Linked DNA regions of Homo sapiens: region 2 is linked to region 1. The links come from fine-mapping of genetic effects on gene expression. A gene starts in region 1. The other region holds a variant in brackets. All regions are shown on one strand. Distances are from middle to middle. Region 1 holds the start of UROS (uroporphyrinogen III synthase). Region 2 overlaps UROS (uroporphyrinogen III synthase).

Region 1 (15,828 bases):
TGAAACACACAAAGGTATACAGCCACAACCAATGTCACTACAGCCTGTGACTACTACCACAGTCTCTAATTGCTAGAGTCTGGAACTAATTTCTGACATACTGCAGAAACTGCATAAACACACAACCTAAATTCTAGCAATGGAATCGCAACAAAGCCTTAATGTTTCTTCTTTCTGAAAATTAAACATAGCCTTGTGCATCTGGATGCCCTTGAACAAAAGAAGAAACTCAGAACAACCGTCCTCTTCAGCTTTCCTTTTTTTTTTTTTTCTTTTTTTCGTTTGGAGACAAAATCTCACTCTGTTGCCCAGGCTGTAGAGTACAATGGCACAATCTCGGCTCACTGCAACCTCTGCCTGCCAGGTTCACACGATTTTCGTGCCTAAGCCTCCTGAGTAGCTGGGATTACAGGTCTGCACCACCATACCCGGCTAATTTTTTGTGGGTGTATTTTTAGTAGAATTGGGGTTTCGCCATGTTGGCCAGGCTGGTCTCAAACTCCTAGCCTCAAGTGATCTGCCAGCTTCGGCCTCCCAAAGTGTTGGAATTACAAGTGTCAGCCACCACACCTGGCCTTTTCAAAAAAAAAAAAAGAAAAAAAAAAAGATAGGGTCTTGTAATTTTGCCCAGGCTGGCGTGCAGTGGCTATTCACAGGCACAATCATAGTATATTGCAGCCTGGAACTCCTGGCCTCAAGCATTCCCCCTGCCTCAGCCTCCTGAGTAGCTGCGACTACAGGCGTGCACCACTGCGCTTGGCTCACTTCAGCTTTAACAGGACTAGGAGAAAGCAAATCACCCTCCTATAAAACCAAATAAATGTGAGCTCCAGCTGATCAGAAAAAAAGAAAACCAAAAAAAAACAAAAACCACTTAAGGCACCAGAAGCACAATCTGAGCTACAGCTGAGAGAGCAGGGAGCAGGAGATAAGAAGCATCGAATCCCTAGGAAAAAACAGCAAACGTAAAGGTTTCCAGAGTAGAGTTGCATTCCTACAGCTATTTAAAGGAAAACCACAACGCAAGGGCTATGACCTCTGAGAAAGAATATTCTATAAAGAACCTGTCTAGGTCAAGTGCTGTGACTGACACCTGTAATCCCAACACTGGGAGGCCGAGGCAGGAAGATCACTTTAGCCTAGGAGTTCAAGACCAGCCTGGGCAATGTAGCAAGACCCTGTCTCTACCAAAAAAAAAAAAAAATTTAAATTAGATAGAAATAAATAAGAGAATCTGCCTATATTTTGTCCTCTGTTGCAAAGCACAGACAATACAATTCTTAGTACACTCAGTTTGCTAGATTTCACAGCTACATTTGAAATATTTTTGTAAACTTAAAACTTCTGGATTAAAAAATAGAATAACAAAAACCCTGAAAAGCTAGCCACAGTATCAGGACTATGGTTTCATTTGTTATGAAACATACCAATAGAATTTGGGAACTTTACCAGTTTTGTTATTGTTGTAATTGTTCATTATTTTATTCATGTTGCAGAAAGCTATCTGTGAAGGTGAAAAACTTCAATCAAATGGGGATGCAAAGTCTATATGAAATTATCTACTTATATATCACTTAAATCTTAAGTTAAAATTTCATGATTATTGTCACAAACTCTTCAAAAAGCCAGTTGTTAATAATGTATGTACTTCACAGGATGTTTCTTCCACTCCCCTCACACTAAACCCACTTAAACCAAGGACAGAACTCTTTCTATATCTACATATTCTACTTAAATGACATTTAGGAATCTATTTGAAAAAAAAATTACTGTTCAAAGATATTTTCCCAGAATCTCTTACTGAAGCTGCTGGTACATGGGCAGAGCGATCTGTGGAGGGACATTAATGAATCTTTCACTTAGGAGAAGGCCCACAGGCTTGGTGGTGTCATTTAAAAACTTGTCCAGCTGTTCAACCATGCTCTTTTCACAGTTCTTCTCACAGAAGCGTAGAACCAACTCTTGAATTTGTTCAACACACTGGGTACCCTAGAAAGCAAAGAGAAAGCTTGTTTCCTATTACAAGCCATCACATAGAGGACAAAACCTGAGAGTAAAAGCTATCACTTTTCATCTTACAGCTAAGGGCAGTTTCCTGCCATAGCCTTAACGTCTTGTATGTCTTCAGTGTTGACTGCTTAAGCATTTCTCAAAAGTAAATACACTGGTTATTTACCATCCCATGATGAGTGGTAAGAGAGTCATAATTAACATTCAGACACACTGGAATGGCAACTCTAGTCCATCTCATAAAGATAGATGGAAGTAACTGGACAGTTTATTTCAAAATTAAAGACTAAGTGTAGCCTGCATCTTATTCTGAGGTGGGTAAGCAGCTGGTTTACTTTTTATTACAACTCATCAGAGAATCAATAAAAAGAGATGAATCGAAACAAAATAAAATGTCAGTAAATGCCCTCAACATTGAGGCAGCAAAGCCTGAGAATATCCCCACTACACAAGTAGCAAAGATAACAGCTGCAGAGAGACAGCACAAACAGCTCCTGCATCAGTACCAACATCAGGACTGCAAAGCCAGATGATTCCCTAAACCACAGGGAGTAAACAACTTTAACTGGGTACAGACCCAACACCACCACCTTCATATTGAAAAAGGATTACAATAAGATTTCACAAGAGCACTTATCCCTATAGTTAATATCACTGTTTAACATAAAAGACATTTTCACCATGCATTAAATAAAAGTGGTTTTGGCCTAAGAAATAACCATTCAGATGCCATCCAGTGAAACCAACCTTTCTTTCAGTTAAATTTAAAAGGCTTATGAAACCAAAAACCTCATCTTCATCCATATCATCATTGCTGTCTTCTGAAACATCCGTTTGCTATTTTAAAAGAAAAAATATTTAAATGTTATATTTAGTATAATACCAAGAGTATAAAACCAAGTCTTGGGATGTAGGCCTCATTTATCTTTTCACTTTTCAAAAGCAAAACTTTGTTTTACCACCGCCATCTTAGAAAGCATTGTATTTTAAATACTGTCACAGTTTTACCACCATCATCTTGGAAAGCATTGTATCTTAAATACTGTGTGACCTTGTTCATTTCGCTTTACCTCGACTCTGTTCCTCTTTTCAGATTCTGAACAGATTGAAATTTCTTTGTACCAGATTAAGTCATTTTCTTTTATCAGATTCTCAATATAATACAAATCCAGAAGAGATAAACCTCATGAAATAAAGCATTTTCATTTGTTTTCTACACAATTAGGCTGGAGCCAAGCCTTGCTTCTCTGCTGGCCCACAGCATTGTTTCATCTAAAACTCATGAGTTTCCAGAACACTTGTCAGTCTTGACCATTAGTGAAGCTAGGCAATGCTTGAGGGCCACTTACACCTATCACATTAGCAAGAGAGAAGGGGAAAAAAGAGAACCCCCTGCCCTTTGTTCTATGATCCTAGGGACTGGCTCCACCGAACACTATGGGTAGTCCCTTTACTAAGAACAAGAAGTCTCTATCCTCAGGACACCTCAAGTGTCTCTGGAGAATCCCAAGAAGCCACAGTTACAACTGCAGAGCTATTGATGTGATTATCCATTTAAAGAGTGAATCCTGCCATTAGATAATAACCTCTTTCAAGGATAAAAATAACTGCTTCTCCTCCATATCCATTAGGTCTTCTAAGACACGAATCAGCTAGAGATCACATTTATTTGATGAAAGGGCAGGTGGTCTGCTTTTTCCCATTGCCCTAATAAAAGGAATGCCCCATAGGTTTAATTTCTCATTTTCTTTACATTGAGTGCCATAAAGTTACTAATATTGTCAGAAGCCTTGAAAAGTGTACACTGTATTTAGTAACAAGTATGTTGGTGACCCTATCACTCAGTGTCCGAATTTTAGTGGTGTAAAAGTCAGATAAGAGTGTCTGAAGAATGAATAGGAGGACAGGAAGTAGAAACCATGACTTAAGATTACTTTTCAAGAATTTTGGCTCTGAAGGTGATGTACTTAAGAGTGGAACATTAGACTGAATGGAGCTTTTGTTTGTTGTGTTTTTCACAACAGGCTAGGGAACAGGTGCTAGGAACAGGAAAAAGACATCAACAGTGACAGCTACACATATGTAGCACATGTCAGCTGCCAGACACTGTTTTAAGCAGTCAGCAATTCATTTTGTTTACCCATGCACTCTACAAGATCGGTGCTAGTACCATCCTCATTTTCAGAGACAGAAATGGAAACAGATTAAGGTACTGTGGCAGACTGTATCTTTCACAGATGGCCCCAATGGATCTCTCCTTGGACATGCTCTTCTGACAAAGTGACCTAGGTACTTTTCTCATGGAGTGGTGGGATCAATGTGCCCTCCCCCTAGATAGAAATTTCTATCTGTAAAGACTAAGCAAATGGTGGAAATGGCACTATATCACTTCTGCCTGCTTCTTTTGGGCAGCTTGCTCTTGGAAGCAAACCAATGTGTGACGAGGCCCACATGGAGAAGAACTAAGGCCCCTGGTCCAGAGTCCCAGCTAAGCTCCCGACAGACAGCTAGGGCTAACTTGCCAGTCATGTGAGTGAGCCATCTTGAAAGGGAATCCTCCAGCCCCTAGTCAAGCCACCCCAGCTAACATGATGGAGCAGGAGCACAGATGAGTTGTGCCCACTGAGCTCTGTCCAAACTGTAGATCCATTAGCCAAATAAATGACTACTGCTATTTTACGACACTAAGCTATGGGGTGGTTTGTTATACAAACAACAGATAACCCAAAGAACCACCAGATGATAAGCAGCAGACCCAGGGTCTAAACCAGTCCTTATTTTGTTGAGCTCTCTACAACATCTATCTGATAAAGATGACCATCCCCTCCTCCTTCAAATGTTATCTTTCTTGCTGTGTATGACATCACTGCACTATTGTTTCTTCTACTTCTCCTGTCATCCCTTTTAATCTCCTTTGCTGGCTCTGCCACTTATATTACTCATCGAAGTATTCTTGGTATTACTAAGGTGTCTGTCCCTTCCCTCCCTGCGCAATCTCAATCACTTCTACGACCTCAGTAACATTTACGACCAACTCCCAAGTCTCCAGGGCTCCACCTGCTACCCGGTATCTCACAGGTAACTCAAACTCAAAATGTACAAATCCAAATTCACATTCCCCCTCCTAATTTGACCTTCCTCCATGTTTGTTATCCTGTTTGCTCAAGCTAGAAACCTGGAAGTCATCCTTGACTCCTTTTCCTCTCACTTTCAGACCCAATCAGGGACTAAACCTCATCATATTTCATCTCCCAAATATTTTCTAAATGAGCCCACTTCTCTCCCTCTCCATTGCCCCCACCTGGACTACTGCATTTAATAAGCTTGGATTTCTGCAATGACTTCTGATCAGTCTCCATTCCTCCAGTAATACTGCTTCCAATTTGAGCTAAACAGAATAAAGAACTTTTTTTTTTTTTTTTTTTTTTTTTCAGATATAGGGTCTTGCTGTGTTGCCCGGCTAGAGTGCAGCGGCACAAAGCTCACCATGGCCTTCAACTTCTTGGCTCAAGAGATCCTCCTACCTCAGCCACCTGGGTAAAAAGACTACAGGCATGTGCTACTATGCCCGGCTAATTTTTTGTTATTTTTTGTAGAGACAGAGTATTGCTATATTGCCCAGGATGGTCTTGAACTCCTGGCCTCAAGCAATCCTCCCACCTTTGCTTCCCAAAGTGCTGGGATTACAAGCATGGTGAGGCCCAGCATGAACAGAATAAAGAACTCATTTAATCAGAATAAACACAATTATCCTACTTACCTTAATCACACTCCCAATATGGTTCTGTTGAATTAAGAGATCTGTTAGTTCTGCAGTGTTCACAGGAGCCTTTAGAAAAAGCTAAAAGGAGGAAAAAATTATTTTAAATTAAGATCAAAGCATGATTTCTAATAACTTCAAATCCTATATTCAAATACAAACAATGAAATTTCTGTGACTTAAGATGATGATCTAGAAAAGCAACCCCAAGAGGGAAAGAAAAGCCCAGGAGAGTCAAAGAAGCTAAAGATTAGGAAATTTCAGAAAAGAAGAAGTCAGTAGTAATATAGAAGTAATGGGGGAGGGGGAGAAAAAAGGGAGAAACGAGAGAGGATAAACTTAAGGCCAAAGAATTTGGTGAAAAAGACGGTAGAGCTATAAAGGCTAAAGAACCAAAGTCATATTATATGAGTAAAAGAATAAGGAGAAGCAGCAAGCATCAATTTTATAGCACCAAACAGCACAGTTATATGACTGTTACATAAGAATTGTGAATTAAAAAAAAAAACAAAATAACTCTAATTAGCAGATGAAAGGAAATAATTCTTCCTTCCAGGCAAGGTGGAGAGGATAGAAATGGAAATTCTAAAAAGATGAACTTGGGAGAGCCTGTATTGAATGACCTGAATTTTCTTTTTTTTTAGAGACAGAGGCTCACTCTGTTGCCCAGACTGGAGCTCAATGGCACATTCATAGCTGCAGCCTTGAGCTCTTAGACTCAAGTAATCCTCCAGCCTCAGCCTCCTGAGGAGTTAGGACTAACGGTGTGTGCTACCACAGTTGGCTAATTTTTAATTTTTTTGTAGAGACAGGTTCTCATTATGTTGCCCAGGCTGGTCTCAAACTCCTGGGCTCAAGCAATCCTCTCACCTCGGCCTTCCAAAATGCTGAGATTATAGGCATGAACCACTGCACCCGGCCCCTGATTTTTCTTAGAAGAGGAAATTTATGCATAATAAATAAAAGACAATACCTGCTGCAGTAATTTCTTAATTCCGTCATAATCATTATCTGATAGGGAATAAGCTTCAAATTCAATATTCACTTCCTGTAAATAACACACAAAATAGTTGTTACCAGAAAAACTACAAACATCTAGACTTTAAAACAGGCAAACATTGCCAAGATTGCCATCTGTGAAGAATACAAAGCACCTTCACACTATTTCTTCAGGTGACACAAAAGCCTGAGAAAACAAAACACTCAGAGTAACCTAGTTTAAATGTTGAGAAAGTCCAGTTCAAATAAACCAGACACGGCAGCCACAAAGGATAAATTATTTTCCTGATTACAAGGGTGGGCAAAAATCAAAATCACTTCAAAAGTCCCTGGAATTGCCTAGAGCTTGACTTAGCCCATGGATTTGAGGTTACACTACATTTGCTTAGCAAATATTTATTAAGTATCAATCCAGGTACCAAGCACTGTGCCAGGCACTCAAGATGAAAAGGTTAGTAAGGCAGACACAAATGATCCTGCTCTCGTGCAGCTTACGATTTAGGAAGGAATATAGGCATTAAGGAAATATTCATAGAAATAAATGTAAGTGCTATAAAACAAAGGTACACAATGTTGTAACAACTTAAAAAATAAGAAGTCAGTCAGGAAAGCCTTCCTTGAAGTGACATTTGAGCAAGAAACCGAGAAACAGCAAAGAGAGTTCCTGGTACAGGGAACAGCACAAACTAAGGCCCTAAGGCAGAAGGAAATACAATGAGTACAAGGGACTAGAAGAATGAATGTGTAGCTGGGCTCCCTGATCTCTATCTGCAAGACAACAGAATCTAGAAGATGGAACTAAAATGCCAAAAACAAAACCTAGTTGCTTTTAAACACTAACAAGATTAGTCCTTGAGGACCCTAAATCAGACCTTGATAAGTGACACAATGAACCTGGGGCTCTGATGAAATAATATATTTAAAGGCACTTCAGGTTTTAACGGTTTCAGAATTTAGGTCTTAGCTGAAGAACATCGCAGAGGAAATCAGACCTCCTTTTACCTTGCCACCCTGACTATGTATATATTTAAGTCTTCCTTAATTGTAAAATTGCAAGGCCCTGGAATTGCTTAGAGCAATTCCAGCTCCAATTTGAACTCTTTAAGTCCAGCTTTGCAGACTTCAAATGCTAACTTAGCCAGATTATGTGAGCAGCAAAACACAAGGGGTCGGGTGGGAGTGTTCCAAACAGGATCAAACTAAACCAAATAACAAACTGTCATTATTCAGGACTTAAACTTATTCCTTAGATATAAATACATTCTGTAAATAATGCTCATCTAGTGTTTTTTTCTTTGTCTAGACAGACATCTCGGACCTCTGTCCCAGACTATTATGGCACCACCAGGGAAATGGGCGGCAAATGGATTATCTGTCCAGCACCCTTTTCCTGGGTATGGGCTCATCTCCACATGGCTTCAGCAGGAACAGTCACGTTTGTAGAAAAGAGCCCTGTCCCTCATTCCCAGGTGATTTAGAATTAAGACTGTGGTGGTGTGATAGATTTCCCATGTTAACACAAGCAGCATTGATTTCTATAACCCAAAAGTAATAAAAGAGCCAGTCAAAGTTCTAAGTGAAAAATGGTGAGATGGCATTCAAGGCATAGAGCCAAAGTAAAATTTGTAAGGGAAGGAAGATTGATCACATACCCACACCATGGTGTCACCTCTAATCCTGCATCCATGCTTCTCTCCATGCTCCCCTCCATGCTCATCATGACTCATGATTACCTCTCTGATTTTATTTCCTATCACTCTCTCTTCCTTATTCTGATCCAGCCATCTAGGCTGCCTTTCCGTCCCTCAATTGTGAAGACTCTTGATTTTCTTGTAAATGAACTAGAAAGCCAATGCAGCAATCTAAGCAGAGGCCTGAGATCAGACCTATAAGATCTCTCTGACTGTAAGTGGAGTATAGACTGATTGTAGGGGAACAAAAATGGAGAAAAGAACGCCGGTTAAAAGCTGTTACATTAAATAGTAGTCCAGGCAAGAGATGATAGAGGTGTGGACTACGATGGTCTCAGAATTAGTGCTGAGAAATGTCTGGATAACAGGATTTACTGATGGGCTGGATATAGGATGAGGAAAGGGAGGAATTAAAGTTAAGCCCCAGGTTTTGGGTTAGAGCAGCTGGTGACTTTAGGGGCCATTTATAGAAATGGTGACGATTAAGAGAGGGGCATGAATTATTATACAAATTCTGCTTTGGACAAGTTAAGGCTGAGGTATCTATTTAAACATTCAGTAGGCTGAAGGATCATTCAGTCCTAATTGTTTACTAAACAAATAATAAGTACCTATATTGCCAGGCACTACGGTAGGACCTAGTCTGAAGAAAGGAACACAGTTCTATGAGACTATGAAACCAAAGATTTACCCACGACTTGGTCAGCTGCCCCAGGAGCCAGAAAATACAGCCTAGCTGAGATCTGAAGAAGGAAGGGAAAACTGCAGGATAAAGAAGAGCATTTGAAAAGGCTTCTACGGTAGAACGCGGCAAGAGCCTTCAAGAAACTGAGGGCCCAAGTGAGTGCCGCCCGCAGAGTGAAGAGGAGGACAGCTGCTGCCCCGAGGGGAGAGGGCCCCCTCTGCGAGCCCGGGGTGGCCGATTCAGGATCTGAGGCTTCAGCCTGAGAACTAAAGAGGACGAGAAGAACACACCTGTTGTGGCGGGCTTTTTCGGGGAGGACGCGGGTTGGGAGATTAACTGGACCGGACTAGACCTTTAAAAAATAACTACTATGGCTGCAGTGTGTTAAAGACCGAGGAGAAACCTGAGAAAGAACTTATCTCCAGTTTCTCCTCACAGACCCTCAGGGTCAGGGAAGACCCTACACTATTTTTACACAGCCTGGGCTTGCCAAAAAGTTTTTCTCAGGTATAAACCAACTAGGGGAGCGTGTCCTTCTCACCTCGTCAATGACCTCGTCCTCTTCATCCTTTTCCTTGTCACTGTCATCATCGTCTTCATCCTCATTTTCGACTTCTTTTTCCTCTTCCTCGTCGCGCTGGACTGGGGGATCCGGCGGCTGCGGAACCCCACTTTCCACGGCACGCCGCTTAGACCTGGACGCCATGTTGCCGCTCACACTGCGCCTGCGCAGCTTCCCCTTGCCTGACCTTCCGGACCAGCCCATAGTAGCCAAGGGGGTGAGGAACTACGAAGAAGCTCGGCGCTGAGTGCACGTCAACCCCAATGCCCCTGCTGGATTCCGCAGCCATGACCCCTTACAGTCACGTCCAGCTTGCGGTCCCATCTTGCTTTTTTCTTCCGCTTTCCACCCTCCATCACTCCTCCCAAAGCTTCCCCTCCCCTTCCCGTAGTGGTTCAACCCATCTAACCTCTGGCCTCATTCCGTGGCCTGGATGGCGGTGCGCATGCGCGAGCGCCTAGCTGCGCGCAGCCACCCACGCGACCCCAGTCTGAGGTGCGGGGTCCTGGGGCCCGGCGCGGGTGGCCGCCGCGGCCCCTCGGGCTGCGTGGGGAGGGGGCTTCCGCCCCTGTTGTCATTGCTCCTGCAGCCTTTTCGCTGGGACTGCGCGACACCGCCCCCCGACCGGGTGCCCGCTGTGTGCCAGGCCGGGTGCTGGGCACGGTCCCGCGAGGTAGGTGTCGCCGCCCGCTGTACCGGTACGGACGCCGAAGCCCGCGGGCGTGCAGGGGCCCGGCCCCGGGCGGTGTGTGACACAGTGGGGCCAGGGCCCCGAGGCTTCCGCGGACCTGGGCCTGCCCAGGCGGGGATGTCCGCTGCCGCTACCGCTGCGCCGGTGACGGAAGGCGCCTGCCCAGCCTACCCTCGCCGAGCTTCTGGAGCGCATTTCTTGACCTAAAAGTTTTTTTAAAGCCGGCACCGCAGTTAAAAATGCTTCGGCGGGGGGCCGGGCCCGGTGTCTCGCGCCTGTAATCCCAGCACTTAGGGAGGTCAAAGCGGGTGGATCACCAGAGGTCAGGAGTTCGAGACCAGCCTGGCCAACATGGCAAAACCTCATCTCTGCTAAAAGTACAAAAATTAGCCGGGCGTGGTGGCGGACACCTGTAATCCCAGCACTTTGGGAGGCCGAGATGGGTGGATCACTTGAGGTCAGGAGTTCGAGACCAGCCTGCCCAACATGGCGAAATCCCATCTCTACTAAAAATACAAAAACTAGCCAGGTGTGGTGGTGCGCGCCTGTAGTCCCAGCTACTCAGGAGGCTAAGGCAGGAGAATCGCATGCCCCCAGGAGACGGAGGTTGCAGTGAGCCGAGATCGCGCCACCGCACTCCACACTCCAGCCTGGGCGACAGAGGTAGACCCTATCTAAAAAAAAAAAAAAATGCTTCGGGGCCAGTGGGGTAGTCTAGGTTAAAGACCCGAGCCTATTTGGAGAGAAGAGTGGAGGGGACTGCGGCCAACTGCAGAGCGAGCGCCAGCCCCTGTGGCAGGTGGGGATGCAGCCTGGGGCAGCCAGGTCTTCCCATTGCGAGAGAAACAGGGTTCATCAGCTTTCTAGGAATAAGATCTGCGGTTCTCAATTGATTTTTCTCTGTAAAATGAGGGGGGTGGGTTGGATATGTTTGATTCTAGGAATGGTGTGAGCTGCGCTAATAGGCTGCTTCTGTTTAAGCAGGGTAACATCTGATAAATCAGTGATCCTTCATCAGTACGAGATGGCGTGCCCTAAAGGTCCCCAGGAGCCCAGATTGCCCATAATCGTGTTCTGTGATTTCGGTCTTTCCTGGGAGTCTCTTGTCTACCCAGCCATGTCATGGATATTAAAGTAATACTTACACATCAGCGCTCCACATCTGATGGGGCAGCTTGAAATGGCCTCTTTGGGTCGCACAACTGCAAAAACATGTTCCTGTAATGGAGAAGAGAGGAAGCTGTCAAAAAAGACCCATCAAAAGGCTAAGATTAGAAAAAAGACTCAGAAAGACCATGTGAACATATCAACAGAGTTGCACTGAGATACCATAGCCAATTTTTTTTCCTGTTTCTTTATACTTTTTTTATGGTGGTAAAAGATACATAACATACATTTTACCATCTTAACTATTTTTAAAGATACAGTTCAGTGGCATGAAGTGCATTCACATTGTGCAACCATCACCACCACTATCCATTGGCAGAACTCTTTTCATCTAGCAAAATTGAAACTGTAGTTAAACAACTCCCTTATTTTCCCTCCATGACCTTTCTACTTTCCATCTTTATTAATTTGACTATTCTAGAAACCTCATGTAAGTGGAGTAACACAATATTCTTCCTTTTGTGACTATTTCATTCAGCATGATGTCTTCAAAGTTTATCCCATGCTGTAGCATGCATTAGGATTTCCTTCCTTGTTAAGGCTGAATAATACTCCATTGCATGTATAGACCACATTTTGTTTATCTACTTATCTGTCGGTAAACATTTTGGTTACTTCTACATTTTAGCTGTTGTAAATAATGTTGCTATGAACATGAGTATCAAATATCTGTTCGAGTCCCTGCTTTCAATTCTTTGGGGTATATATGTAGCAGGGGAATTGCTAGATCATATGGTAATTCTATGTTTATTTTTTTGAGGAACTATACTTTTTTGTAGTTTGCAAATCTTTCACAGTAAACAGGATCACTTTTGTAAGACAAGTAGGGGAAAAAGCCTTACTTTATGCCCTCAGATTAGTTCCCAGTGTTGAGCTCATGGTCAAAGTGTGAATTAGAATAGTGAATGTGAAAGTAAATACAGTACTGACCCTAGGGAACTGAACTCAGCAGGTAGTAGATTGCTTACCACTCGTTCAGTGTTCATCTTTAGCTCAGAATTTATCTTAATGAGGCAGAGGGATGGTAGCAAGTGGTTAGGAGACTGAGCATGGGCTTCAGACCAGGATCCAAATTCCATCTCTCCCACTTACTGTGCTGTGTGACCTGGGACAAGTTACTCAAACCTCCCAGGGACTTGGTTTCACCTCCTGCAAATAAGGCTAACACCACCTACCTTGCAGGTTTAAGTGAGGATTGCAGTCTTGCATGTAAAATGCTTAGCCCAGTGTGATAGTTACTTTTACATGTCATCTTGACTGGATCACGGATGCCCAGATATCTGGTTAAACATTATTTCTTGGTGTGTCTGTGAAGTTGTTTTCAGAAAAGATGAGCATTTGAATGGATAGACTGAGTAAAGTGGATTGCCCTCCCCAAAGTAGGTGGGCAGCATCCAGTCTGTTGAGGGCCTAAATAGAACAAAAAGCCAAAGAAGGAAGAATGTGTCCTGTCTCCTCCTGCATGCTTGATCTGGGATATCTTCTGCCCTTGGTGCTCCTGGTGCTGAGGCCTTCACACTCAGGCTGGAACCTACACCCTTGGCTCTCAGGCCTTCAGGCTACAACACCAGCCTTCCTGCTAACAAGTCTCCAGCTTGCAGACAGCAGATCATGGGACTTCTCAGCCTCCATAACTGCATGAGCTAATACCTTATAACAAATCCCTTTCTAGATGTAAATATATGCCATTGGTTCTGTTTCTCTGAAGAACTCTAATACACCCAGTAATTAACATGAGTAAATGCTCAGTAAAAGGGTGACTGTTGTTATTGCTGATACCCAGAACACCATGACATAGAAGGTACGGGTTTGAGGTTTGGTTCTTTCTTACCAGTAAGGTGCCCTTATTCCAGTCATTTTTTTTTTCTTTTCTTTTTCATCAATGATTGATGAACATAAGTATGAGGGTAAAATGGCAGAGCAAGCATTAGACTGTAAATCTAGAGACAGGTTGAGCCCTCTTTTTACCAGTGCCGAGGTGAGTTTCATGTTGGAAGCTTCAGGAGCAGCTTCATTTCTGCTGGGGCTTCTCCCGCCTTTTTCCCCCTCAATGGGAAATAACAGGTTTCGTTATTTTCATTGGAAAAAAAGGCAGAGGAAACCCCAGACACTGCACGGTTTTTAGGCCCTAGCCTCACCAGTCTCAAGCCTCCTATCAAGGAGGGCCATATAGTGCCTCTGATCTGCTTGATGCAGACCCTAGGGTCCTTCCCACTCCCATGAGCCACCCACCAGAGTGAGCTAAGAAATCAACTGGCAGAGAGCAGAGTCACGTATGGCCAAGAGGAATTGTTCTGGGGGTTGTTTAGTAAGCAGGAGAGAGGGAGGAGAAGAAAAACTGCACAGGGATCAGATGCCTCCAGCAGAAGAAAGCGAGGCATAGAGATCCCTTACCATCTGAGTCACGTGGCACCAAATATGTTACCAGTGGCAAATCAGTAGACACCTGCAGCAACCTCAATCTTGTCTCCTCAGAAGAAAATTCAACTGGGGGCATAAGGCAGAAAAAGTGACCGAGGCAAGCTTCAGAGCAGGAGTGGAAGTTTATTTTAAAAAACTTTAGGCCGGGTGCAGTGGCTCACACCTGTAATCTCAACACTTTGGGAAGCCAAGGCAGCCGGATCACGAGGTTAAGAGATGGAGACCATCCTGGCCAACATGCTGAAACCCCATCTCTACTAAAATACAAAAATTAGCTGGGCATGGTGGCGCATGCCTGTAGTCCCAGCTACTCAGGAGGCTGAGGCAGGAGAATCGCTTGAACCCGGGAGGCGGAGGTTGCAGTGAGTTGAGATTGCACCACTGCACTCCAGCCTGGGCGACAGAGCAGGACTGCATCTCAAAAAACAACAACAAAAAACTTTAGAACAGGAAAGAAAGTAGAGTATGCTTGGGAGAGACCTAAGCAGGCAACTTGAAGGACAAGTGCTCCATTTTACTTTAAGGAAAATTAATCATTCTTTCTGTTTCAAAGATGCTGGGTAAAATTGAAATTGTTGTTTTCCCACAAGGTGAGCAAATAATGAGCATCTACTACAGGAAAGAAAGTCCATCAAAAAAGCCAACAATGGAGAGGCTCACAGCCCCTTTCCAATGTACAGGAATCTGAAACTGAGACTGAGGCAAGAGCAGCCTAGACCAGAACCCAGACACTGGCCCTCCTGTGCAAACACCCTCTACTCCACCAAGCCTCTTCCTAAAGCCCAAGGTGGCGACATGTTAACCTATCTGTGCACGCTTCTCAATTGATTTCTTTCCCAATCAGCCTGATAATATGTGACTCTAGCACAGCAAAGAATCATCAACAACAGAACCTTTTAATTTTATATTATTATTATTATTATTATTATTTAGACAAGATCCTTCTCTGTCACCCAGGCTGGAGTGCAGTGGCACGATTATAGCCCACAGCAACCTTGAACTCCTGGGCTCAAGTGATTCTCCCACCTCAGCCTCCTGCGTAGTTAGGACTACAGGGATGCGCCACTATGCCCGGCTCCTTGTTAACAACTTTTAAAATTTTTGTAGAAATGGGGTCTCGCTATGTTGTCCAGGCTGATCTTGGACTCCTGCTCTCAAGCAATCCTCCTGCCTCAGCCTGCCAAAGTGCTGAGATTACCAGGCATGAACCACTGTCCTGGCCTAATTTTATATTAGAAATGCTTTCAGTGTTTGGGAATGATTGTATACAGGATTAAAAAAGAAGACAAATGCTTTCAGTGACGTCAGATAAAGGATAAGGGTAGTAGTTGGATTTTTATTTGCAACACATCTCAGGGAGCTCTTTATTATCCAGAAGCCTAAACTTCATGCCAGCATCGGTTTTATTACCTAAGAGAACCACAGATTAGAACCCAGGAGAAATATTTTCTCTGTTTACAATGGGTAGATTGATTTTTCTTTGGGGTGTTTGCATAACTAAACTAAGCACTTTGTACTACAGTGATACTTTATATTTTTATACCTCTATTTTTCCCAAACATTTTCGTATTCAAAGTGTATGTGAGGCATAATATAGCGTAGGGGGTTAAAAGCACAGACTTTGGAGCCAGACTGGTTGGGTGTGAATCCCAGCTCTGCCACGTAGCAATTCTGAGACTTTGGATGAGTGTCATCCTCTGTACACCTCAGCTTCTTCCTAAGCCTCGTAGGTGGACTTAATGCATGTGAAGCTCTTAGAATAGTGCCTGGGAGGCAGTAAGTTCAATAGATCTGTTCGCTGTTTTTATCTTCTTTGAGTCACTCAGCAACCCTAAGGCTTGG
Region 2 (13,923 bases), 26 kb after region 1:
TTGGCCCTTGGGTGGTGAGATCAGGATGAGTGGTATAGGGAGAGAGTATACCTTAAATAGGTCTCTTTATGGCTTCTGAAACAGTGATAGATGGTTTTGTTTCTGGTAAAACAAAGTATTTATGTTATTTAAAAAAAATACTCCTAAAGGTGATGTTGGCCTTTCTTGACGTGCAAACTTGTACACTAACGTCTTATAAGGCATTACTTACAAGTCTTCCTGCCGTAAGTCATTGCTGTTGCCTGAAGGTTCTCTAGCTTATATTTTTCTTTGTGTTACTGGGAGCTTGTTCTAGAGAAAGTCCTGCGTCTTTTTCTACACTGTGGTCTGAGGATCCCTGGAGCTTAATTAGGCCCCTGACAGAGTCGTCTGGGTTGGGGGCGGCAGTGAGCAGTCAGGGAACAGCAGAGATACTGCTGGGCTCAGTGGATCCTTTCCAAGTTCTCCAATTCTCCTTTTTTCTCTTTTCTAATTTCTTTTAAAAATAACTTCGTTGTACCTTTCCTGAGTCACTACATGCTCGGTGTTAACGTTGAAGACTAGCATTTACTGAGTGCCCAGCGTGTCTCGGGTACATAGACACGTGGCCTGTATGATGTCATTTAATCTTCACCATCACCCCATGAAGTCAGAATCGTGTCCACTGCAAGCTGTGCTGGCCAGTACAGTAGCCACTAGCCACATACGGCTATTTAAATGTAAATGTAAATTAATTGAAATTAAATACAATTGAAAATTTAGTTCTTCAGTCACACTGGGCACATTTCACAAGCTCACTTGTCACTGTGGCCAGTGGCACCAAATTGGACCACACAGAACATTCCCATCATCACCAAAAGTTCTTTCTGACTGTGCTGCTATAGAGACTCTTGGGGGTCCAAGGCCCAGATCTTGTCCAAGGTCACAAGCTATGAAGTGGCAGGCTGGAATTCACACTCAGCACAGCAAGGCCACTGCTCATCCCATGGCCTGTCACATTCAGAGGCCTGACTGGCATCTGCTCCATGCCGACCTGCTCTCAAGGAGATGCTGGCCAAGCACCTCCATCCACTCTGATTTACAGTGACTGGGGCTCCTGCAGGGATGAAGACGTAAGTGTGCTTGACTCTGTGTTTGAATCTGGTGGGCAGAGGCTTAAGGAGCCTCCGGTTTAGAGGAACTACACGGGCCTTTTCTGGCCACTCAGATGAATAAGCTGTAGTCCCAGAGTGTTTCGGCCACTTGGCAATCCTGAGCCTGTGCACTCCTTAGTTCAGTGGATGTGCGTTCATCGGCTCGGACATGGCTTTCAGGTATTAATGCATTGACTGACGCCTCTCTTGCCCCACCCCCCATATTGCTTCCCACATCACAGGAGAACAAGTCAGTTCAATATGGTTCGGCAGATGTTTACCCAGGAGCACCTGTGTGCCAGGCCCTTTGCAGGGCGTTGGGACTGAAGAGGAGTTTAACTCCATTCCTGTCTTCTGGAAGTTCCCAGCCTAGCTGGGGCTGGAGGTGGGGTAGGGTGGGGAACATATACATCAGTAACCGTGATAAGGCAGGGTGGATTAAGTGACCAGAAGAGGTATGAACAGTTTTTGTATGGTGGGCCTGCTATTAAGATACCTGTTTCTACCTGTAAAACACTCAGGATACCAAATAGGTGGGGTTTTTCCTCATATCAATGACCAATTCTCCAATGCTCCAGATAACAGCTGGGTGTCCTACAACTTAATTTTGACATTACCCAGAATTAACCCAGACCCCACAGCTTTAAGGGCTCAGTCTTAGCAAACTGTCCCCCACTTTAGATACAAGTATTGGATGCTGAGGGACCTCTGTCCAAGTTGGCTACAAGTCAGGAGTTCTCACGACTCCCTACTCAGGTTCAGTAATTTGCTAGAATGGCTCACAGAACTCAGGGAAACACTTATGTGTACTGATTTTTATAAAGGAGATAACAAGGACACAGATAAACAGCCAGATGAAGAGGTCTGGAAGGGTCCTGAGTACACAGGAGCTTCTTCCCCCATGGAGTTGGGGTGCGCCACCCTCCTGGCACATGGATGTGTTCACCAACCCAGAAGCTCTATAAACTCATAGTTGAGGGGTTTTATGGAGGTTCCATTATGTAGGCACCATTGATTAAATCATTGACCCCTGGTGACTAGCTCCATCTCCAACCCTTTGATCACATGGTTGTGATCCTCTGTGTGGCCTTCAGCCCCCATCCTGAAGCTTTCTAGGGGCCACCACCAGTCACCTCATTAGCATAAACTCCAGTATGGTTAAAAGGGGTTTATCATGAATAACAAAAGATGCTCCTCTCACCTCTAATGGGAAGTTCCAAGAGTTTCAGAAGCTCTGTGCCTGGAACAGGGAGGAAAACGAAATATTTCCTCTTGTATCACAGTGTCATGTCAGGGTGTCCAAAAGAAGGCAGAGGTCTTCAGGAAAGTCTGTACAAAAGGCATGGCCTCCTCTCCACAGAGAAGGGCAGGCCCTCCCTCAGGCAGTAGCCATGGCCAAGCCCTCCCACTCAGAGGGAGCCACTGAGCAGAGACGTGGAAGGAGAGGGTTTTCCTGGAGAGTACAGCATGGCAGGGGCAGTGGGTGGCAAGCTGGGGAGCACTGAGTAGCCTCTGAGAGTTGACCGGAGCCCTGAGGCACGGGGCCTTACATCAGCCCCTGCGGGTCAGACTCAGGCTGGATTGGTCCTCCCCAGGCCTAGACGGGAACACAACACTGCCTGCTCCCTCTTAGCGGGCATCACTAGGTACAGCCAGGATTGGGCCCAAAAGGCAGTCACTGGATTAGGACCCAGTTCTCTTGTTCCTGGGACTTTTTAGGAGTGTCTCTGAAATTTATCCCTTAAGTAAAAAGAGCATTCTTTAAAACCTACAGAGCCATCGCAGTCTAAGAGCAGGGCCTGGGGTGCTGTGGCAGGTCTTGCCTTGAAGGAGCCGTCTTCCCACAGCTCAGTGTGCTCCAGGGCTTGCTGGCAGGCAGCTTCCACGGGGTCCTGGAGGCTCTGGGGGCATAACAGAAATGCTATCAGGGAGTTTGAGGGCCCGTTATGAGTCTGACATACATTGGCATTTTGTGCATGCCTTTAATTGTCTGACATATTGTGGTACTGAGCTGTGACATGGGAACGATTACTAGACCTGCTTTTGCTCATGAAGAAACTGAGCTCAGAGAGGGAAAACTTGTCCATAAGGAACAGAGCTAATAGTGGTAGGCTGGGGCTCAAGCCTAGGACTGGCTGACTCCAAAGCTCTTCCTGTCTCCCTTGCTCTGTGTGCTTCTAAAAGATACTTAGTCCAAGTCCAAAATATGCTCATTTCTCTTCCCTCAGGTGAAGAAGTCAAAGGAATCTTTTGAAGTGAAGAAAGTGGGTTTGGACGTGCCCTTATGCTGATGAATCATTGGAGTAATATCTGGGGTTTAGCCGCATCCTTGGTGGCAAGGCGGTGGGGAAAGCCCCTGAGGGTGAGGCCAGCCTGAGCCCCAAGGGAAAGGGGCTGCTGGGACCTCCTGACCTCAACTCATCTCCAGGAGCGCACAGGGCCTCGCACAGATGCCTCAGTCTGTACCGCTGGGAGTTCGTGCCATCTCAGACCTACCCTCCCTACCTGGGCTGTACCTAAAGAGATACTGCTAGGCTTTCTCTAGAATGTTTCATGAGCCAGCACTGTGAGACATTTTCAAGCTAAAAACATACAGTTCAGGAGACTGTAATCTGTGGTAGAAAGTGTTCACCATTTGCTGCTAGTAAAGACGGTTGGCCCTGTGCTTCTCTGGCCACTTGTGCCACATGGTGTTCTCGGAAGAGGCCTCTCCATGCACCAGTGTGGAGAAGCCCTCTGGAGGCCAATTCAAAGAGCATCTGAGGCTAAGCAACTGAAAGGAAAAGGCCTGATGGCCAACGTGTTGCTTTCTGTGGAATGTTCCAGACTGGATTGCTGGGGGTCATTTTCTTTAACAGCAGCCTAGACAGGCAGTGACTCTCTTTTATTCAGCCAGGTGTTGAAATAGCTGCAGGGAAGCCACAGACAGTTGTTCCAGCTTTCCGGATCAGAGAGCACTGGTTGGGCCCCGTGCCATGTGGCCCCAGCCCCATGGGATCGCTCCTCAGGTCATGGAGCCACACATCAGTGTGGAGGGTTCGCTCCAGGGGTTCCTGGTACAGGATGCAGATGGGTCTTGTCTGGCTCCAGGCTTTTTGTTTCTAATGTTGTTTCTAGAGAGTCATCATCACCGCATAAATGGTATCAAAGCCCTTCTTTTAAAAATGTAGAAATAAATGTAAATGGTAGATCTTGACATTGCTTGTGGGATTAAGTTCTACAAAGAATAGTAATTATTTCTATGGGTGGCTGACAATTAGCTCTTTAATAGAATAGGTGGCTCCTGCCTGTTTTCAGTGAAGACATTGAGCTGTACCCACAGTTTGTTTGTAAGGAGACAGAAGTGAACCTCTGAGTCGTTGTTCATTAGAAGACCCAGAACCATCAGGCTGGTGTCCCTGCTTTGCAAACACAAGACAGAAGAGATCAATGTCACTTCTGAGTGATCACATTGGTGTTTCAGTTAACTGACTCAAGGCTTGGTTGGATAGATATTAACATATTCTGACCTTATCTGGGAGAATACTGGTCTGCATTCTTTGCAAACTTCTGCCATTTCCTCTAATTTATTACCAGCATATCTATGGGTCCTAATAAATCTTCCATTTGCAATTAGAATATCCAAATAAAAATCCATGTTGACTGCTAATAAGGACCTTCACCTTGGCTTTACCAAGGCATTAATGATTTTTCTTTCTCAGTAAACTTTGATGCCTGATTTTAAAAGCTAAAAATCTACCTCTAATGCTTGTAGTAAACAGGCCAATTCATAGCTATGCCTATTTATTTTAGTTAACACTTAACTACTTTGTGACAGGCACTATTGTAAGTGCTTAAAGCTATTAATCCATTTAATCTGATAACTCATTGTTCTGATAGATTCTCCTTCTTTCCCAGATATCTCCTCTAATGGGAAAGTAATTACACACTAAATGGTAAAAGGTAGAATACAGTATAACTTTTGAAAAGAGAGAGAAACTGTGTGGGCAGAAAGATTGCACTGCAGTTTATTTGAAATGTCCTCCTGGATTGGGAAAATCTCTGCAGCCTGGCACACTTACTGGGCTTTTCTTCCATTCCTCCGATCAGCCTCCTCATCCTTATTATCAGCACTCAGGCGCCCACTGTCTGCTCGAACTGATTCTCATGGCAGTGCCCGAGAGGGGGAAGTCATTGTTAACTTGGAAGTTGTTACTGTTCTACAGATGTGTGCACGTCCTTCAGTAAGATGACATTTTAAAAAGTCAGTGTCATTGATGCAGGACTTTTTGCTCCTTAATTCAGCTAAATCTGGGTTCTTGTCTCATGACCAGGAAAAATTAGGCATGTGGACACATTGAAGGGTGAGAAGGGCAGAACTTATTAAGTGAAAGGAAAGCCCTCAGCTGGGCGCAGTGGCTCACTCCTGTAATCCCAGCACTTTGGGAGGCCGAGGCAGGTGGATCACCTGAAGTCAGGAGTTTGAGACCAGGTCAGGAGTTCTGGCCAACATGGTGAAACCCCATCTCTACTAAAAATACAAAAATTACCTGGGCTTGGTGGCCGCGTCTGTAATCCCAGCTACTCAGGAGGCTGAGGCAGGAGAATTGCATGAGCCCAGGAGGCAGAGGTTGTAGTGAGCTGAGATTGCACCACTGCACTCCAGCCTGGGTGAAAGAGTGAGACTCCGTCACAAAAAAAAAAAAAAGAAAGAAAGAAAGAAAAGCTCTCAACAAAGAGAGGGATTCTCCAAGCAGGTTTCTCCCTCATTATTGAATACCAGGGGTACCACACATGAGCTGATGAGGCCAGGCTCCTCCCCTGCGTAAGGTGCGAATCCTAGTGACTCCGCCCCGTTCCCCCAGCACGCACACGAGGATGCCCAGGTAAACCATAGGTAGTATCGGAAAAGGCAACATTTGATTGGTTAAAAGGCATTATTCGGAAAGAATCAATTGGGAAAGGGCAGACAAACGGGCAGACGTTCTGCCCCTGGGTCGCTGGTTTCATCTGGGACCAGCAATCTGGTCTTTCAGACTTCAGGCTGTTCTGGGCTTGAAGGTGAGGTCTCACCGGGGACCCTTCCCTATCTGCCTAGGCATTTGTCTGCCTCCTGCTTGTATCATCATTTTCTTAATTGCCTGCAGTGACTTTATCAAGCCCCCTCCTGAGCTGCGTAATAATAATACTGTGTTAGGATTTTCAGTGTTATTACTCATCATCAGCCCGGACAGCCCAGAATTCCAGGCCTTCTTCCTGTTAAACGAACGGAGAGCAGAGCCTTTGAGCTCCACAGTTCACTATCTCTGTGTCAGCCTTAACCATCCCATTGGCCTGTTGGGGCTGAAGATAAATCCCCAGGCATTAAGCATATTCCAAAAGGGAATAACTCCTTTGTCTTTGGCTTTTTGAAGTGGGCTAGTTTTCAGGACATGTAGTTGTAGATCTCTCCTCACCAGCAAAGGAGGACTCAGCCAGGACATTTTCAATTTTCTCCTTTCTGCTGACAGGGTGGTGCCTTTTCAGTGAAGTCAGCTGAGCTGGTTGGACATTTGTGGGCCCTGTGTGCCTGCAGAGCCAAGCTCTCTGCAAGGCACAGGTGGTGGAGAGATAGAGACAAGCAGCTGCCCTCAGGGAGCCGCGTACCCCTTCGGCCCAGCCTTGTGAGTCAGAGATAAGAATGAGCAGCTCAGGACTCCACTGGACCCTCACAAGAGGTGCTGCCAAGGGAAGATTCCTGACTCTTTCCAAGGCCCCTCGCACACCTGTGGGGCTGGGCTTGCTGAAAAACTGGACTGTAGTTCTCTTACTGGATCCCCAGGAAGAGCTTTGGCCCCTAACATCTTCCACCCTGCATTCCCCAACACACACATAGACACACAGAAACGGGGAAGAAAATTGCCTCTGAACATGGCTTTGAAAATATGTCTCTAGGGATGCAGAGCATGAAAACATTTCCTCGCACTGGAAGAGAGAAATCAGCAGGCATCTATTAACGAATTTAACAATCTCCCAATTCATTATTTTATTTTATGTTGGTACAGATATTTACAGAGCAGTTTAAATAAAGAAAACATTCACCAGTATGTAGCCTTTATACACTTGAAATTAAGTGGCCTGCAGTTATTCCTGTTGTTTGGCTGCTGCTTGCTAGAGGTGGTACTGGATGGAAAGGGGTTGTTTTGCTCCTTCCTCTCGTTGTAGTCACCAGAGAAGATGTGATCAGAGAGATCATAAGGATGTGAGAAAATATACAATGTGTATGAATAACGCCCATTAAAATTTCTTATGTCTTACGGATGGATGTGGGGGGTAATGGCTGGTTCTACTAAAATGCTGTGTTTTCACATTTGGGGAAGATTCTGGCATTTGACAACTTATCAGCTTTTTTGGACAGTATTGTTGCAAATTGGCATTCAAATCCTATGCTGTCCTCACTATTCTGCAAAGAGTTAAGGGCTGAAAATGCCCTTAAGTCTTCCCAGAGTGGAGATGCTGGGAGCAGAGGTTGTGGTGAAAGGAGAGGCAGGCCGTTCTTAGCAGGCTTCTCTCTCTAAGGCCTGTGCATTCGCCTTTTGGCACTTGGCCTAGTGGCTGTTGGTGTGGCTAGAAGAGGAGTGGGCAGTGAGCTTGTCTTTGTTGGGGGTGGCTGCAGAGCCACTCCTGGCTGCCGGTTACCGGCTGCCTCCTGAGCATGAGCCCTGGCTCATCTGGAGCCTCTTTAAAGGTAGAAAATGTTTGCCCCAGTGCCAGTCAGCACCAGGCCTGATCTTCACCTTCCTGACTTAGTTAAGGTGCAAAGTCTGCCTTCTAAATAGTGACTGCAGGCTAGGGAGTCACTTCAGGATCAGAAGGAGTTAAAAGAATGTGGCTAACTTGTTTGTGTGGATGTTCATTTTCTGAGCACCTCCACACACATTACCTCTTATGATCTTCATATAACAACCCTTCAAGTTCGGCAAGGTAGCAGGTGCTCTTCCTGTTTACAGATGCTGAAACTGAGTCCTAGAAGCAGAGCCAGGCCTGGAGCCCAGGGCTGCTTCCCCCTTCCCAAAGCTGCCCCTCCCCATTCCCCTGTGCACAGGCACTGGCCCTGAGTTTTCACAAAGCCTGGTTATTTATTCACAGGGGAGTCCTCAGCACTGCCTCTTCTATTTCCCTGTGGAAACCTCAAAAGAGAAATCCTGCCAAAAGCGCTCAAGGACAAAGGCGAGTAGAATGCTTTGACTGCATCCCTTACCACTTTGGGATCCACCAGGAGCCTTTGCAGTGATAGAAGTGGGTGGCCCTGCAGAGAGCACACAAGGGAGAGCAGGGCTGGGTTGGATAAGCCAGGCCAGGAGACACAGAGACCATGCTCATGGGAAGAGTGGACGTGCAGTCTGCACTTTCCTTTCTTTGGATCCACTCTTCCCAGCTTGTTAGCTCAAGCTAGGAGCACACAGTGTGTCTCCAGTCCTTCACCAAGAGGACAGGAGATCGAGATGTGGAGGTGGCCCCTGGGCAGATAACTGAGGTGACAAACCATAGAATTGGTTCCACATGTAGAAGAAAGTCTACAAATGTAGCCGATCTTATAATAGCATGCAGCACCCTCCAGCCGAGCCACACAAGCTCCACCTGCCCCTCCAGCTCCACCTGCCGTGGCTCCCAAGACTGTCAGCACCTAGAAACCAGTTCTTGCCTCTGAAGCATGCTGCCGTCCTCGATGCAGATGTCTTAGCTGTCACCTGCGCACCTTTTGCTGTCACATAGTTAGTCTGGGAGCAAAGTCTATCAGTGGTTTGGAGTACCAGCTTTCGGATGAGATAAAAACAGATTTGAATTCTCCCTCTTGCTGTTTATTAGCTATGTGAATGAAGGTAAGTGATGTAATCTCTCTGTGCATCAGTATCCTTATCTGTGAAATATGGTTATCTGTACATAACCATGGTACCTGCCTCATAGAGGTGTTCAGAGATCATGTAGCATGACACCTTGTTCTCCAAAGGCAAGCTCTCCATGGAACTATGACTGTTACTGTCTCTCCCAGGGTTTTGAAGCTCTAATAGTCCACATGAGCAGTGTGACCCAGGATGACCTTAGACCTTGTAACTTTCCCCCCGTATTAAAATGGAGCTAGATCGTATCCCTTCTACCCATATCATCTGTCTTCTAAAGCTACCAGGAATAAAGGCAGAGGACATTAGGTAATAAGATCAGCAAAATCATTAGCTTTTCGGGAACAAGAAAATACCAGGATAAAATAAGAGAAAGCTTGGTCTCAGTTACCCTTAAAGAAATAATATATAAATCAGAGGTTTGATACTTCAGTTTATTTCTTTAGTTTTCAGGGATATGAAATGGCAATAGGTTGCTGTTTTATGCTGAAGTTATCATTTCTTCTGAGAGAGTTTCCCATTTTATTTTCAGAAGCCTGAGTTTTCACTACTTTTCACCTACCATCTGGCTGCCCCTCATAAGTCAATATCTGACTGAAATTGCGTGAGTCCCTTCAGTGCCTAGCGCCTCATCACCAGCCCTGAAAACCCCTGGGAATATTCAGAGT[C/T]GCTGAATGGCACAGGGAGGAATGTGGGAAAGTCCACGGCTTAATCAGTTCTTGTACAAGTGGACACACTGAGGCCCAGAGAGGGGACGCGTGGCCATGTGGAGGCACAGCTGGAGTGCAGCCGGGGATCTGGACTCCAGGCCTCTCCCAAGAGCTGCCCTTCCTACACTTGCTGGTGTCATGCAACCAGTCTGTGTGGGATCCATGGAGTGACTAGGGACGGCCTTGTGTGGACAAACCTACATAAGCCTGGGAACAAAAGGCATTCTGGGTACAAATGAAGGCTTTGGTTTCTGGGCCTTTGTTCTTTTTCTGCCGTCTCAGCCTCCTCTTCCACCGGACCACTCCACAGCGTTTAGCAGGCTGCAGAGGACTGTTCAAGGCCTCTCTGCTGAGTCTGGCCTCTCAGCTTCCAAGCAGCTCGTTCCAGGAGGGTGGTGCTGTATTGGGAGGTTTCACCAACTGTGCTGTGAAGTGGTGGAGGCCCCATTGTGTGCCCAGTGCGGTAAAGTCTTTCCTGCTTTTGATTGTGCCCAGGGATTGCCATGGAAAGCATAACTGTGTATCAGACAGTTGCACACCCAGGAATCCAAGGGAACCTGAACAGCTACTATTCCCAGCAGGTACGTGGCGTTTGGGGGCGGTTCTGGCAGGGTGGGTGCCCAGGTGGGGAAGCAGAGGGTGAAGGGCACGAGCTGATAGATGTTGGTTCTATATGTGGTTTCACTGTCCCCAGCTGTCACCTGCATGCCTTTTCCTGTCACATAGTTGGTCTGGGATTCTAGAATTAGGAATGGAAACAATTTTGTGGTTGTTTCATGAAATGTCTATTGCAAGCTGGTTTGAAATCAGTGATTTCGGTAAGAGGTGCTTGTAGTAGGTGGTCTATGAAATCTCCCTCTTTGGAGAGATTAATGTGGTGACTTTGAGGAAGTGGTAAGTTTTTATAGGGGTTAAAGGAGATAATTTACGCAAAGCTTTTTGTACAGCATCGAAGATACATACAACCCTGAGGTAAATAGTGGCCTTGATGTTATCATTGCTATTCATCATACGGGGATGCTGGTGGAGCTGGAGGGGCAGACACTGGAGAGGGAGGCTGAGCCCATAGTGGGAAGAGCTGACAGTGGCCACCAAGGAGTCTGGATTGAATTTGGGAGTCCGTGGGGACTGTTGGAGGACTCAGGCAGGAGAATGGATAGCTCTTGCTTGAGTTCCTTGATGTCTTCAGCATTTATATGCAGTAAAACACCTCCCTTTCCTCTCCCAGGGCAAGCTTCTGAATGTCTTGCCTGGTATTGGGAGGGCCTGATAGGACAAACCAAATGCAAAAAGGCCAGGCAGGCTTGTCTGCTTGCTCTGCTTCCAGAGGGAGGGAGCATTGACAGGGAGCCAGCACTGCCTCACACCACTGCCTCATGTGATCAGTGCCGTATGACCACAGGAGCTAGAGGCATTGTCTAGGCTGCTGGGCACATGAGCTCCGGGATGCCCATGTCCTCTGGCCAGGCAGACACAGACCTGGGGCAGCACCAGCTTTCTGATGGCAGCCTGCTCTTTCCAACAGTTCCCTACCAGAATCCTGCCTCACTGGAGCAGAGGATGCCAGCATCAGCCGGGAACCACTCCTGTGCTAAAACCGCCTTGGTGGCCTGTGGCTTGAGGTCTTGATGCGGATGAAGCCGGAGGAATGTTGTCTCTCCTCAGTCTCATGGCAAGGACTGATCTTGTTTTCTGTTCCCCACAGGGGGTTCCAGCCAGCATCACATTTTTTAGTCCCTCTGGCCTCACATACAGTCTCAAGCACATTCAGGAGTTATCTGGTGACAATATCGATCAAATTAAGGTAAGTTATTCAATGAGCTTTTGGTCTTTTTCAGATTCTTTTTTTTTTTTTTAATCTTTATGAATTATCCTAGGGCTTCAATGTCAAGTGAGACACCCCTGGCCTAGCAGGTGCCTTAGAATTGGAAGGGCAGCTCTACCTCCTGCTGGGCTGTTGCACAGATTGCTCACCTTCTCCCAGCCCGTTTCCTCACTTGCAGCATGGGGATAATTGTCTCTCTGTGGCTTTCATAGACATGTGTATGGTCTTCCCTGCTTAGGATGAGTCTCAGGATTACATGAGGGAATTTGAGTAAAGTCCTGAATTAGCTCAGGGCTTGGTACAGGTGTTAACATCCTTTCCTTCCTTTCCCCCATCTTATGTTTGCCATTATTGTCTATTCTAAAAGCAGTCACCTTTTTCATATCTTTTAAAGGGTTTACATTCTCACTTACTAGGGACTGTATTTATTATGAGTCTACAAATAACCACAACTCTTGTGTCTGTAATAGAAACACCCTTGAACTGGCTCCAGAGGGACTGAGGAGAGGGTGCAGGATGTGACCCAGAGCCCAAGGACAGACACTGCCACTCACTGCAGTCAGGAAGAGCAAAAGGCTTCACCTGCCTTCTCACAGGTGCATCTCATGTGGGGAGTATGCACCGCTCTCCCAGTTTTAAAGATGGAGCACGGGGCTCAGAGACATCATATGGCCTGTCTGTAGGTCACACTGCTGAGAAGGAAGAGCTGCAGTTGAACCTGGGAAGACTGATTCCACATTGTCAGCCATGGTGATGCCTTGCCATGGTCTCAGGAGCTGCTGAGCAGTTGATGCACTTCTGGGCAGTAACTGATACAATTCTCACACCAGTCCAGTGGTGGGTATCCAGAAAAAGAGGTCAGTGTTCCTCATTACAGGTGAGGACACTGAGGGCTAGAGAGGTGAAACAACTTGCCAAAGTCATGTTTTGAGTTCCTAGAAGGCCCAGGACTCACACAGGTCACCGAGGAAGAAAAACAATATCTGAATCTTGTGGTTAGAAAGATTAGAGAGAGGCCGGGCGCTGTGGCTCCCACCTGGAATCCCAGCACTTTGGGAGGCCTCAGGCGGATCACCTGAGGTCAGGTGTTCCAGACCAGCCTGTCCAATATGATGAAAACCCCGTCTTTACTAAAAATATAAAAATTAGCTGGGCATGGTGGCATGCGCCTATAATCCCAGCTACATGGGAGGCTGAGACAGGAGAATCGCTTGAACCCTGGAGACTGAGGTTGCAGTGAGCCGAGATCGCGCCACGGCACTCCAGCCTGGGTGACAAGAGTGAAACTCCGTACCTGCCCCATAAAAGAAAAAAAGAAAGAAAAAGAAAAATTAAAGAGATAGGACCCATAAAGTGCTTAGCATGGCAACTGGTCCATATGACCAGCGCTTACGTCATATTGCAGGTCAGGATGGGTCACGGTGCTGGTCCTGCTCTGGTTCTTGTCCCTCTGTGCCCTGCTGCCTCTCCCCTGGGCCTGTAGGAGGAGTCCCCACCTCCACCCCACCCACCCACCCCCAAGTCACACAATGCTGTGAGATGCCTGGTGGTATAAGCCTAACACAGTTTTCCCCAAGCTTCTTAGTGTTTGCCTAGAGGAAGAACAAAAGATTTATACTCTATCTTCTTTCAAAGTGAGCATATTTAAAAGCACAAATGGATACTCAGCATCTGAACCAAGAACTCAGGCCTTTCTGAATAGACTGCTGCCTGCATTGTCCACACCCATGGCAGCTGGGGGCTGAGTGCGTGTTCCTATCCTGTATCTGTCACACCCATTTCTGCAGCCCTCCAGACACTCTGAGGAGCTCTCAGTAGCCCCCTCGCCTCTTACTACAGTGATTGATTACCCTGCCTGCCAGTAGTTAACACCTCTGCCATTGCTGAGGAGGAGAAAGTGACAGAGCTGGCCTTGCTCACAGTGACTATGGACTGCTTGGGGGCCACGAAGGCACTGTGTGTGGGTTGTGAGTTGTCCCTCGACACTGGGACTTGGCGCTGGATAGTGAGGTGCTTTCAAGGTTCACAGAGGACACAGTCCTAGCCCGTGAGTTGGTAGTTAGGCTTTTCTGTCTCAGCTCAGCCTCAGATTTGCTACTGTCCTCCCTCCCCAGGAGTCCCTGTAGGGCCCACTGTTTGTACAGCATTGCACAACATGCAGGCGCACCACAAAAGATCAAAGGGGGTGACTTCCGACCTGAACTTGCTACTTATCCATTGACTTGGGAAGACCACGCACTTGTCTATAAATGCCACAGAGATGTCACTGCAAAGCAGTAGGTAAGCAGATTCGTAATCACCACCACCACACTAATGGCAGCAGCTGAATTTCCTGTGTACAGCAAAATGCCCTTGCAGCCTGTGAGGTGGGTATCTTCACACCTAGTGCTCACTAGCCACAGTGGCAGAGCCAGGCT

Evidence for each region. PIP is the estimated chance that this variant, and not a neighbour inherited with it, causes the effect.
Region 2: its variant is fine-mapped to the expression of UROS in whole blood (TOPMed, PIP above 0.99).

Annotation. Positions count from the first base shown.
Region 1 is chr10:125,817,581-125,833,408 of GRCh38, reverse strand. UROS (uroporphyrinogen III synthase) reads left to right here and starts at 10,151. Exons shown (of 10, transcript NM_000375.3): 1 at 10,151-10,380. BCCIP (BRCA2 and CDKN1A interacting protein) reads right to left here and starts at 9,863. Exons shown (of 7, transcript NM_078468.3): 1 at 9,687-9,863; 2 at 6,744-6,818; 3 at 5,771-5,851; 4 at 2,758-2,847; 5 at 1,802-1,989. The coding sequence starts at 9,851. MIR4484 (microRNA 4484) reads right to left here and starts at 13,669; the gene lies at 13,587-13,669. RefSeq lists silencers at 9,099-9,318, 10,075-10,504 and enhancers at 9,795-9,994, 9,538-10,223.
Region 2 is chr10:125,792,442-125,806,364 of GRCh38, reverse strand. UROS (uroporphyrinogen III synthase) reads left to right here. Exons shown (of 10, transcript NM_000375.3): 7 at 8,220-8,300; 8 at 10,177-10,262; 9 at 11,387-11,485. Among named protein-coding and RNA genes, the nearest start is that of MIR4484, 20 kb to the left of the region's middle. The variant C/T (reference allele first, on the strand shown) is at 9,640.